Linked DNA regions of Homo sapiens: regions 2 and 3 are each linked to region 1. Evidence: fine-mapped expression QTL. Tissue or cell type: whole blood. Region 1 holds a variant in brackets; each other region holds the start of a gene. Each region is shown on its reference strand, or each on the opposite one. Region 1 overlaps MNDA (myeloid cell nuclear differentiation antigen). Region 2 holds the start of MMADHC (metabolism of cobalamin associated D). Region 3 holds the start of BMX (BMX non-receptor tyrosine kinase).

What was found. PIP is the estimated chance that this variant, and not a neighbour inherited with it, causes the effect. A credible set is the group of variants that fine-mapping cannot tell apart.
Region 2: it holds the start of MMADHC, and the variant in region 1 is fine-mapped to the expression of MMADHC in whole blood (TOPMed, PIP 0.94).
Region 3: BMX starts here. The variant in region 1 is the best candidate, but not a certain one, in a credible set for the expression of BMX in whole blood (TOPMed, PIP 0.74).

The regions. Positions count from the first base shown.
Region 1 is chr1:158,838,080-158,842,325 of GRCh38, reverse strand. MNDA (myeloid cell nuclear differentiation antigen) reads right to left here. Exons shown (of 7, transcript NM_002432.3): 2 at 1-192. The coding sequence starts at 172. It also overlaps a transcript of OR6N1 not described here. Among named protein-coding and RNA genes, the nearest start is that of MNDA, 8.9 kb to the right of the region's middle. The variant G/A (reference allele first, on the strand shown) is at 1,804.
Region 2 is chr2:149,585,536-149,589,781 of GRCh38, reverse strand. MMADHC (metabolism of cobalamin associated D) reads left to right here and starts at 2,007. Exons shown (of 8, transcript NM_015702.3): 1 at 2,007-2,118; 2 at 2,633-2,693. The coding sequence starts at 2,685. It overlaps MMADHC-DT (MMADHC divergent transcript), which reads right to left and starts at 2,424. Exons shown (of 3, transcript NR_110240.1): 1 at 1,932-2,424. RefSeq lists enhancers at 1,961-2,280, 1,597-2,796.
Region 3 is chrX:15,498,485-15,502,730 of GRCh38, reverse strand. BMX (BMX non-receptor tyrosine kinase) reads right to left here and starts at 1,924. Exons shown (of 19, transcript NM_203281.3): 1 at 1,791-1,924.

The sequences.
Region 1 (4,246 bases):
CTTGGAACTTTTTTTCCATCAAATCTGTAATCTTAATTCTGTTGTATTCCTCTTGCATTTTTGTAGTTAGTCCTAAATCATAGGCCAGTAAGGACTTAATTGATGTAAAATGATAATCATCCATGAGCTCAAATCCTTTCAGCAAAAGAATTTTCTTGTATTCATTCACCATTTCTGATGTTATAGCTTGGCCTATAAAGTAAAAATGACACACAACATTACACATTTATGCAGACAATTTTAAAAAATGAGATATGCTTTTGTGAGTGAGTGTCCCAGGCCAAAATGTTGTCCTTGGATGCGTATAAGAAAAAGGGACTAAGTTACCAGATATGTCACTGTGAACAATGGATCAAGACTTGCTTTATTAGGAGGTTCAGTGAAGTTCTTCCCTTTTAATGTTGATAAGTTGGGACAGAGGTGTATGTGGTGAAATGATGTTTGGAAACAGGTAATTGTTGCAGTATTTATAGTATGGGTTTTGTGGTGTCAAAGTCCCTGGTTCCTCTTCTGATATTTTATTGGGGCCTGAGCCTATCCCTCAATGCCTACCTCTTGGTTCCTGATTCTTCCCTGATTCTTCCCTGATTCTTCCTGGTCATCCACTATGACCAAAGTGGCCTAAGTATAAATGGGCTGCAGCCACTCACCTTATGTGAATAACCTTCTGCCACAGCACTACAGTTCTGAGTTGTGGAATGGACTCTAGTCCTTCTTGGCTCTCCCTAATCAGCTCTCGTTAGCACTTTTTCTCCCTGGGGCTTAGAACTTGTTCTCTGTGTCCTATGCATCTATAAAATTGTCATTTTGCCATCCTCCTATCTGCTCTCTAGTGTGGAATTGCAGCATTTATTTTTTGCACATTTGTTTTTTACAGTCAATTATTTACCTCCAACTAGTCTTACTTTTACTAAAAGGTTTCTGTCAGACAACCAAGTAGGTTTCTTTATGGATAAAGACATGACTCTATTTTTCCTGAAATCCTTCAATGAGTTTTGATTTTTATTAGTATAGATTTCTACTCAGCATGACTTGAAAGGCCTTGCATAAACTGTATCTTTCTTTTTGTGTGTGTCTGTTACTTTTGAATTTCTTATACCTTATGCTCTAGAAATACACAATATGTCTTTCTTTTTCAGGTCTTCTTACTGCTAATTCCCTTCCTGCTATCTGGGAAAGCATTCCCAGTTTTCTTCCTCTGAATACTTCCTTAGAGTTTTTAATGCTTAATTGAGGCTTTATCTTCTGCGAGCTGTTGTGGTCCCACTCTCACTTATGTGTGCCTCTTTAACCCCTTGTGTACTACCTAAGGGCATTCAGTTCCTAACGTATATTCCAATTTTCTGTTTAAATTTATAGGTATTCCTTTAGGTTGGTGACCATGTGTTTGTGCAACTTTTATATAATTAGAGTGTCCAAATTCTTAGGGCTGTAAATTGTTCTCTTTTGGGAGAACATGAGTGTTCCTGTGTTTAAACCTATCAGATAAAGAGAAATTTCACACATGGGCACATATAGTAAAGCCAAAGAATATTAAAAGCAAAATGATAAAATCTTCCAGAAATACTGAGTAGAACACCTACAAAGATTAAATAATCTGATTGAACAGTCTGCAGCAGGTTAAGAAAGTAATTTTTACATAGTACTGATCCATAATTATATGTCTGCAATTTTAAAACCTAAGAAGATACTGAAGGATGAAAAGATTTGTGCGGTTTGGGGGCTTGGGAAGGGATGAGAGTTAGCAGGGAAGTGTGGTAGCAAAATCATCTTGCAAATTAGAGATATAATGTGAAGTAATAC[G/A]TGGCTGATATGGTTTGGCTATGTCCCAACCCAAATCTCATCTTGAAATATCATCTTGTGATAGTGAGCAAGTTCTCATGAGATCTATGGTTTTATAAACATCAGGCATTTCCCCTGCTAGCACTCATTCTCTCTCCTGCCACCCTGTGAAGAGGTGCCTTCCATCATGATTGTAAGTTTCCTTAGGACTCCCCAGCCGTGCGGAACTGTGAGTAAATCAAATCTCTTTTCTTTATAAATTACCCAGTCTCAGGTATTTCTTCATAGCAGCGTGAGAAGGAACTAATACAGTGGCTATTTTTAATCTTCCTTATTCATCTCACTTTAATGTGAATAGTGGCATGATTTGTTGAAGAACTCTTAATGCATTTGATATTAGGATGTTGATATTACCTCTACTGGGACACTTGCAGTGCCTACATACAATGTATGCATTAAGTAGTCTTTCTAAAATCCCCCCCTAAAAAAATGAATTAAAAATCAGAGTTGTCCCAGGGGTTTCAGGTGAAGTGCTGTGAATCAGTTTTCAAGCAAAAATATTTTTCAAACTAAAATTTTGTATCTGGTCAAAATGTTATTTGAATGTTATGGTTTAAAAAATTGTTCTCTTCTCACTGAGAGTGACATTAGCAAGATTGCAGACAAGGACGTTCCAGACTTTCATTATACCATGGAAACACCAAATAAAGAACAATTTATGAACCAAACTAATGTTTTCAGCTGTTAAGAATTGGTTGCAACAAAGGAAATTCCAAACCAAGATTAAGCCACATTCAAAATAGTGGAAAACTTCTAGGTGTTTTTCTTTGTCCCTGTTTAACTTTCTCCCTTGAATGGTGTGACGTGATCAGGAGGAAACTTCCTAATTCCTCATTCTTCCTTTGGAATAGAAGGAAAAGTGTGGAACTGCTTTGCAACATTATAGCTTCTCTGTAGGTTCCTTGAGGGACTAGTAACTGCTTCACATGACTTGGAGCATTGATGGAAATGGTGGCATAGTTTAAATGTCAGATTTGAGGCTGCAAAAAGTAGTGGTGGGTGCTCCAGCTTGTGAGAGCTTCATGGGATCTGCTACTCCCTGGGTGCCAGAAGGCAAGAGATTATGGATAGAGGAATACAGTAGAACATCTAAGGTCATGAAAAGAGGCAGGTGTGGCTCTTAGGGAAATTACAGATTAAAAGCAGTGTGTATATGAGAGAATTACAAAAAATGCACACACATAAGCCCAGGCAAGACACACGTCCATATAGGCCTCAGAGAACGTTTATATTTCATACTTAGCTGAAGAGTGAAAGTCCTCCCCTGAATATGGTGCCAGTTAACAATGGTTGAGAGGGGGCTGTTTTTACAAATGTCCAGTTTTCAACAAAAGGTATACAAAGAAACAGGTAAACATGGTCAATTTTAAAGAAAAAAATGAATCTCCACAAACTTTCTCTAAAGAAACACAGCCCTCAGACTTTCTTGTCAAAGACTAAAACAGCACTCTTAAATATGATAAATGAGTTAAAGGAAAATAGGTAGAGACAACTAAATAAAATCAGGAAAATGATTAATAAAAAATGAGAATAGACAAAAAATAGAAATTACCAGAAAAAATTCCATAAATTCTGAAGCTGAAAAACACATTGACTGCATTGTAAAATCCACTAGAGGGGTTCCTCAGCCCACACCAATAGGCAGAAGAATCAGTTAGCTTTTAGACAGGTCATGTGTAATTATCAAGGCTGAAGAACAAACTTTTTTAAAAGATATAAAGGAAAGTGAACAGAACTTATAAAGTTCATCAAGTGGGACAATATATGCATTATGTAAGTCTGAAAAGGTGATGGAAAAGAGAAAGGAATAACAAAATTATTGAGTAAATAAGGACTGAAAACTTTCCAAATTTGAGAAAAGACTAAATGTACAGATATAAGAAACCAAACAAGCTGCAACTATGATAAACTCAAAGAAACTTACACTATGACACATTATTATCAAATTACCAACACTCAAAGACGAAAAGAAAATCATTTAAAAAGCGCAAGAAAAAGGCAACTCATTATATCCAAGAAATCTTCAATAGGATTATGAGCACATTTTTCAGCAAATACTTTGTAGACCAGAAGGTAGTGGGACAATACATTTCAAGTGTTTAAAGAAAAGTCTGTCCATCAAAAATGCTATATCTGGGAAACCTGCTATTCATAAATGAGAGAAATTAAGACATTCCCAGATAAACATAAGCTGAAGGATTTCATTACCACTATATCTACCTTAAAAGAAATACTAAAGAGATTTCTTCAAGCTGAAACACAAGGATGCTAGATGGTAACTCAAACTCATACAAAAATGTAAGTTCTTGATGAAAGGTAAGTATATACATAAACATGAAACATGACTTTTGCTATTTTGATTTGTAATCATTTTTTATTATTTTATAGGATTTAAAATGTGAAA
Region 2 (4,246 bases), not on the chromosome of region 1:
AAGATTTTTTAAAAAATCTTAGGAACTCAAAGAATCCCAGGAGTAATGCAGATTGTGGCAAAAGATTACAACTGTATTACGAGCATATAAAATAACTTCACTGAGGCCGGGTAGAGGTAGGAGGGAGGGCTGCTGACTTCAGTAACTTTGAAAATAAGTGGAATCTATAAGATTAAAAGCAAAAGAACTATACATAAGCATTGTACTCTAATTGGTAAATCTGTTTCTCACAGGTATACCTGATAACAGTTCAGAAACAACTATACATGTACTCTGAATACGGGTTGACGGTTCTGAATCCATTATACACGTAACCTGGAATTGAACAATTAGGTAAATGGATGGCAGATGATGAGAGCCAGGTGTCTCACACTGGAGTGGAAGGCTACAGACAAGCAAGGGGAGAAGGCTGCAATGATCCATATGGTGCTGGAATTGAACTGAAGATAACAGCTCTAGTATTTGAACCTAGAACGCCTGTGTAGCTGTCAAAGATACAGATGGATACATATATAAATACTTACAGATATGCGTATTTAGTCAGGTTAGCATATCCACAAATATTTCCTTGCTCTGTCAGCTGAGAGTGTCTAGAAGCAACAACATCCCAAATGTCCAAATCTTGATTTCTAATATCATTTTCCATTAAAAGTACCCTTGGCTTTTTGGGGAAGCAGCTGATTCTAGGATTGGGGCAGGGAATATACAAGATGAGCCTGGAGCAACTTATAGAAATTAAGAAAATGCTCAAGAAAAAAAATCAATAAACATAAAACGAGGAGGGTTTGTCAAAAAGACACAAATGCCAACTAAAGGAAATCTCAATAGCCAAAGCTGGAACCAATATGAACAACAAAATAAAGTAGTATTGGATTATAACCCAAAATGTAAAATAAATATCCATGAGTCCATACTGACATAAATGATTGAATACATAAATAAATGCAGTACAGACAAATCTCCCATGCAGAAGAATTCCAAATAATTCATGAAGATATTCTGTCCTCATAAAGGTGGAGTATAACAATTTCCCATTCCTATAGTTTGGGCTGCACAGAGAGATGTCCTTCCAAATAGTATAGTATGGAGAGGAAAAGAAAAACAGTAACTTCACAGTGGAGAAACCTGACAAACCCTACATAGGGAGGTGGAAGGGCTTACTAGATGAAACAAAGGGGATCTTTGTAGAACTATAAAACTTTTCTGTATGACACTGTAATAATGGTGATAAAGGTTAGCATCAACAGTAATAAGTCATGTTGATAGTATATACCCTTGATGTGATGTGATGAGAAGATCACTTTACCTTACCTCTTAACTCAAGAAAAACCCATAACCTCAGTTAATGCATGAGAAAAATACAGGCAAAACCCAATTGAAGGACATTTGACCAAATGACCAATAAGTCGCTTCAAAACTATTAAGGTTATCAAAAACAAGGAAAGTTTGAGAAACGGTCACGGTCCAGAGGAGCCTGGAAGACATGGTGATGTACTCCGGACAGGATCCTGGAATGGAAAAGAATACCAGGTCGAAAACTAAGGACATCTGGAATAAAATATGGGCTTATGGGCTTTAATCAATTTTTAAAAAAGTATTAGATACATGAAAATGATACACGATTTACAAATCAATCGCCTAATATTTATCGAGCATATTGAGAGCCTGGCACTGTGGTAGGGCTGGGGACACAGAAAGAGGTAAGTGCCCTATGCTCAAAAACAGCGATTCATGAAAAATAAACAACTATGACAAAAAGAACAGAAGACTGTATCTCCTGGAGGCAGTAAGGAAGGCTTAAGTTGGGAGGACTATCAAACGCATCAAGGAGTTACTGAAGATTAACTGACCCGCCTAACGCAGGTCGGAAGCCCTCCTATCCATCCACCCAAATCACCCCTGCCCCACCTTTTCTCCTCCCTTGCGTTTACCCAATGGCAGGTCGGCTCCACGTAGGCCTACTTTGCGCGTGCGCATCATCGTTTCGACGCGCTCGGAAGCAACTTCCTTTGCCTGCTCACCGCCAGCGTAGGTGCTACCACCGCTGCCGTCGCCGCCGCCATTTTGATGGCAGGAAGAGTCCGGTTCTGGGACAGCTGGAGACAGTGGTGGTGACTGGTACGGATGGTTTCCGCCCATGTTAGCCCCTCCAAATTTGCCCGTGTTAGGGTTACAGCCCTCGGTATTGCCCGTATTTTCACTGGGTCCCTGTCGTTGTCCCCAGCCATCCTGTCCGTCTGTCTTTAGTCTCTTTTCTGCTTCCTCATCTTTCCGATCAGCCTGAAGCTTTGCTTGGAGCTGTTGTTACGCAGCCCCAACTTCTGTTAAAGCAGCCGCTTCGATCCTCTGGACTGAATTTTGGCCACCCAGCCCCCATTCCCCTCCCGGATCTGGTCCGAGTTGTTTTTCCGCGGCTGTAAACCGGAAGGGCTCTGAGCTGCACTGCCGGCTCCGGGCTGGGGGATCTGTGCCTGGCATGGGGGCGAGTTCTGGCCTCCTTAGGGTACGGGGAGAGCTTGGACTTTGGTCCTGACGTGGTGGACGACACACCTTCGAAGAGTGGACGTTACCTCAGTTGTCTGTTGTTAGAGTTTAATCGATCACTCGTCTGTTTTGTTGTGTTCTTTCCCAGAAATAACTTTACCAAAGGAAAGCTATTTTGCGAACTATCTTCTCCAGCGGAGATGGCCAATGTGAGTAAATTATCTCTTAAGAATCAGCATAGTAAACTCGTTTGGGAATGTTAGGAATGAAAGAACGGGTTTAATTATGATGGCATTGGGTGGTATAGTGTTAGATATAATGTATCAAAAATGTCAAGGGAAGCAAGTGGTGTGAAATTATGTTATGCTTTGAAGATGGTAGCATTCTTTGCACTGCAAATACACTTATTTATACAATTTCATTTGTACAGATGTGGAAATTCAAGCACCCTTTCGGTATTTTTTAAATACAGCGTTTCAGTAAATATTAGAATCTATGTTTAGGCCCTTTTTTAGCTTTTGGGTTAGCTAAACTGAAGGGTTTTTTTAATCTTTTTTTCTTTTTTTTAAAACAGTTTCCATATTGGAAGTGACCTTCTAAATCCTACAAAATAAGAATAGGAGATACTCTCACACACCAGAGATATTTATTGACTGTAACTTTGCAGTGATTAGACACATCCTATCTATAGAATTCATATGTAGCGGTCATAAGACATATATAAAAACAGCTACAATTAAAGTATAAAGTAATAATTTTTTTTAGAACCTACACGAAGGTGCAATGCAGATTCAAGTCTTTGTGGAGAGGAGTTTGGGATCACTTCATGAGGGAAACATTTAACTTGAGGTTTGAAAGATAGGTGGGATTTGTATAGTCTAAAATATGAGCGGGAAGGACAGGAAGGTATATTCAAAGAACTCCCCAACCCGCCTACCCCTTTGAAAAACTGAAAAGTGACTGCTGCCTGCCAACCTGAATGTAAGCTGCATGAAAGAGATAAGTGGGAGATAAGGTTGAATTGTGAGGTTGGTACCAAGTAAATGAGAGCCTTGAATGCCGAACTCAGTAATTTAGACTTCATTCTTTAAATTGTGATTATTCACTTAGAGCTGTGTGCTAGGAAGATTTATATGGCAGCATTTAGCCAGGATGCTATTTCTGTAATTGAACATGGTATATTAAGTCTAAAGTGTGACTATAGAGACAAGTCATAAGAATAGATTACTAGTCTTGGCCAAGTTCTATGGTGAATTTTTGCCTGCCCATAACCTGCACAGAAAGAGAATGCTGTAAAAGAAGTATGTGGTACTTTCAAAGGAGAGAAATTAATTGAAGTAGAATAGAATGCTATTATTTGACCTGGTTTTATTTTGGTTTAAATGAATAAATTATAATAGTTCAGTAGGGAAGATCCTTTTATAAGTCTTTTGTTAGAAAGAAGTTCATATTAAAATAAATTTAAGTTTCAGTATCCAAATGTACGATAACAATTTTTGTGTTAATTTATATGGATTGTAAATTGTGGATGGATGTTACTAATGAAATATGCAGATAGTGTTTCATAACAAGGGGCAAGAATGTTCATGTTTCAGAGTCTAGACAGGTACATTAAGAAGCCTTCATGGGGACTGTGACAAAGCCTTTCTGAACAAAGGGGAGCAACCTTTCCTTAGCTACAGTGATTTGTTGCTAACTAATGCCATTTGGTTATGTGAATCCAATACTGCCAGATCTTCTGAGTTTTCAAGAAGAGCCAAAT
Region 3 (4,246 bases), not on the chromosome of region 1:
TCTTAGGATGCTGGCCAAAGACAAATACTGGCTTCACAGAACCTGACAGATCCTTATTTCACATGATGTTATGCAGGAGAGGGAAAGTTAAAGTTGATCTTGGCATGATATGGACAGAAATCTTTTAACATTGACAGTCAAATTCTCAGCATCTTGGAGCATCATACCTTAATTGATCCAAAATAAGTGTATAAAAACCAGACACTTTGGGAAGATCATTTTCTCACAAAGAAGGCAAGAATCTTAATGCTAGTCTTTTTGGAGCTAAGTTTTGCTTTAGGTGTGAGATTAATCTTCAGTGCCCCATAGAGCTTTTCTAAGTCTTTTCTTCTTTTCAGTAACCTCTTTCTTTCTGCTCCCTCTCCTCTGCTTAGGGCACTCTCTCTGGGCAACTTCCTTAGGAGAAAAGCAAAAAGTAATAAATCCATGAGCTAGCATCTCATGCTGAATTAAACATGTAACACTGCTTTCATGATGCCGGTTAGTGCAAGTGAAAGCACCGAGCTGGGTTCGAATCCCTGCTCTGTCTCTATGGAATCTGTCATGTTACTTAACCCAGCTAAACCTCAGCTTCCCCATCTGTAAAGGCAGTGAAACAATAACCACTTCGAAGGGTTACAAGTAGTCAAGAGAAAATGGCAGCCTAATGCCCAACACCCTAGTAGATATTCTAAAAGCTTATGTCCCTTCTGATCACTCCATAGGCAAAGTTTTAAAAAGGACCATAAAAAGTTAAAAAACTAAAGACAGTGAAATAATAATGATCCTTAATGATAAAATTTTACTTCTCATCCCTCTGTCCCCAGCTCCTGGGTATAGGAGAAAATGGGAGGCAGGAAGACCTCCTCATGTATTGCCATGTCAACAAACACCAGTCCATACATAGTAGGTTTGTCGCAGACTTTCCATCCTGAGACGAGTTACCATAAAATGAGGTTGAACCATACCCTTATTGACTGTGTATTTGTGCCACCATATTTCCTACAAATAAATACTTGGATGTGACTCAAAGTGTGGTCCGTGCACTTGCATCATCCGGGCGATCATTAGACATGCAGACTCTCAGTTCCCACCCGAGACCTCGCGCAGCCAAATCTTCATTTTAGCAAGATCCCCAGGTGATCCACGTGCACAGGAAAGCTTGAGAAGCACTTACATGGACCACAAAGTTGCACTCCTTTTCAAATCCAATGAAATCATTGTGGCCCACAAAATCTTTCAAAATTATATGGATATGAGTACAACTGCATGGTTCACCTCCCTCCCACCTGTCTATCTCCATCTAAAATACACAAAGCACTTGATTTAGGGAGACCTCAGGAACCTAAGAGCAAATATTTGTAGCTAAAGTAACATCATAAAAACACAGTTAAAGAAGGTATAAGGAACATTTCTATGTCTCTTTGGAAGCAGTTATGAGGCCAATATGAAAGGCTATGGAAAGGCAATACCTAAAGAAGCGGATGGAGAAAATTAGCAGAGAATACACACAAAGCTAGGTAGAACTGGTGGTGATACATAAACAACCTGAGAGCTTCCCTAACTGAGATTTTGAGCAAGGAGTGAATTTACAGTGAAATTATAGCAGTTTCAGCCGTTGGCCTCCAAATTACCTGGTCCCATCTAAAGTCCCAGAGAAAGCCCTGGCAATTTCATATTAAAAATGTTGTACTATTTTTCTTAAAGTGAGCTTCCCAAAGTTTGTAACTTCAGGCCCCACAACACCGGGAACCAAACCTATTTTCCGCATAGTATGCGACACTGAGTAGCCACCTGCCGCTTAAACGCACCGTCTCAGCTTGTTCCGTGCTTGCCTGGGTCCGCCGCGGTGCTTGGTCTGCTGTTGCAGGAACACGGCCCCGGCTGTCCTGTTTCCAGAAGCAAATTGTTTCACATTTTCCTGGCTGCCGGGTCAGAAATGGCTACATTACTCAGTGCCCCCAACACGTTTATTGTCCTACAGAGCCTTACACAATCCCACAGGAAACCACGCTCAACACTTAGCCAACACTTGTTGATCTGATTGAACGCAACAAAAACGGAGACAAAAGCATACTTCATAAAGTTTCCAATTTTGATAACTATAGCTCCCACTTTTCCCAGGCAGCTCTCGGGTACATGTGATAACCCTGCCTTTGTTTGTAGAGCTCTATGCTGGAAAGGACAAGAAAATATCTCGGCAAAACCCGACTGCTGACGCTGACTTCTCTCACATGAGCCAGGAAACCATTAGGTAATGCAAAGTGCACAGAGAATATGCAATGAAAACTTCAACTCAACATTTGGACAAAGGAAGGCCAGAGAATATGTAAGAACAGTTCATATGATGGAAAAGGAGCTTATTTATATAGTTTAAGTTATTAAGAAATCCAGAAATGGAAAATAGATTGTTTTTGCTAAGGTATGGTACACCTAGATCGCAATGAAAAAGTGTGTCACTTGACATCATTATGACAGACTCACAACTTTTGGCTTCCCCCATTCCACTATTTTCTCTGGTGCATACCGGCTGGCCATCTGTAATAAATCTAAGGACATATTTTATGTCCTGCTATGGATAGCCAAGAAAAGTAATCATCCTTTTGGCATGCATTGACACACTGTGTTTACTTATAAATTGTTGCTTACTGTAACTTATTTGTAAGTATCTATGATGTGAAGAAGTCTTGGGTTGGCAGAAGAGAGTGAAGCTACTGGCTTTCAAAGAGGTATTCTTTTGAGTGTACATGGAATTAGCATCATTTCTATTAATTCGTTCAGTCAAGTCTTATTTGAGAACCTGCCATGTGCTGAGCATTCCGTTAGGGGTTGGAGACACAAGAGCAAACAGAAGAGAGGCAGCCCACATCTTCAAGGGGCTTATGTGTCTGTGTGGGGGGGGGGGGAACCACAAATAGTGGTTTAATTACAGTAGAGTATGGGAAAAATAACTTGCAGAAATATTTTTTAATATTTCAGTTTGGAAACTAGAATTTTGGGAAGGGAAAGGAGTCCTTCAGAAGAATTCAAAAGAGTGTAACTTACATTCTAATAGCAAATTAAAGTCACTGATGGATTCCAAATAGCTCTCCATTCTTTAGGAATATAGTAGGTAGTCATTCAAAAAATTAAGGGTGAAGCAGGGCAAGAGTGGCACAACAACCTGGCTAAATAAATTAATTCTACACTCTGCTAGTTAATTTCCTTTTCCACATGGCGATTTGTATTTACTTCACAACTTATATATGGTAATATGGCAAAAGTTCGATTCTAGAATAAAAAGTAAACTTAGGGTAGGGGAAGGAGGAGTTGGTGATATGGTTTGGCTGTGTCCTCACCCAAATCTCATCTTGAATTGTAGTTCCCATAATCCCCACATGTTGTGGGAGGGACCTAGTGGGAGGTAATTGAATCACGGGAGTGGATGTTTTTACCGTGCTGTCCTCATGACAGTGAATAAGTCTCACCAGATCTGATGGTTTTATAAAGGGCAGTTCCCCTGCACACGCACTCTTGCTTGCCACCAGGTAAGACATGCCTTTGTTCCTCTTTCACCTTCCACCATGATTGTGAGGCCTCCCCAGTCATATGGAACTGTGAGTCCATTAAACCTCTTTTCCTTTATAAATTACCCAGTCTTGAGTATTTCTTCATAGCAGTATGAAAATGGACTAATACAGTCGGTATAACTGTGGAAACACCTGGGCACAATCTCTTGGGATTTCCATCCCTTCTTGGGGGCATAAAACACCCAAGGACAGCTGGGAGGAGTGGTTTCCTCTAAGGCAAAATGTCACAGATTTATTTACTTTATTCTATTCATTCACTTCCTCTGCTACTTCTCCTGTTTCTTTGGCTCTGTATTTTCCATGAGTTTAGTTACATCCTAACTTTTGGCAATCTGCTATTACGATAATATGACTTCATTTACTCAAATTATACTCTGCATTGTCATCTTTACTCAGTTAGAATTTTAGGAATTTTCTCCTAAGCTTGTTCATGCAAGCCTTTAGCAGGCCACAGCTAAAGGGACATGGCATGGGATAATTTGACTTCATGATGTGAACAAGCCTGTTTACTTGTGCTTACATTTTTAAAATAAAAAAGAACCTGGTAGAATCCATTGTCAGAGAGAGAGAGAGAGAAAGGGGGAAGGAGAGAGAGAGAGAGAGAGGGAGAGAGAGAGAGAGAGAGAGAGAGAGAGAGAGAGAGAGAGGAAGAAAGAAAATGAGATAATCAGAGTCCTTCTGGCTTGTGGCTGACCTGT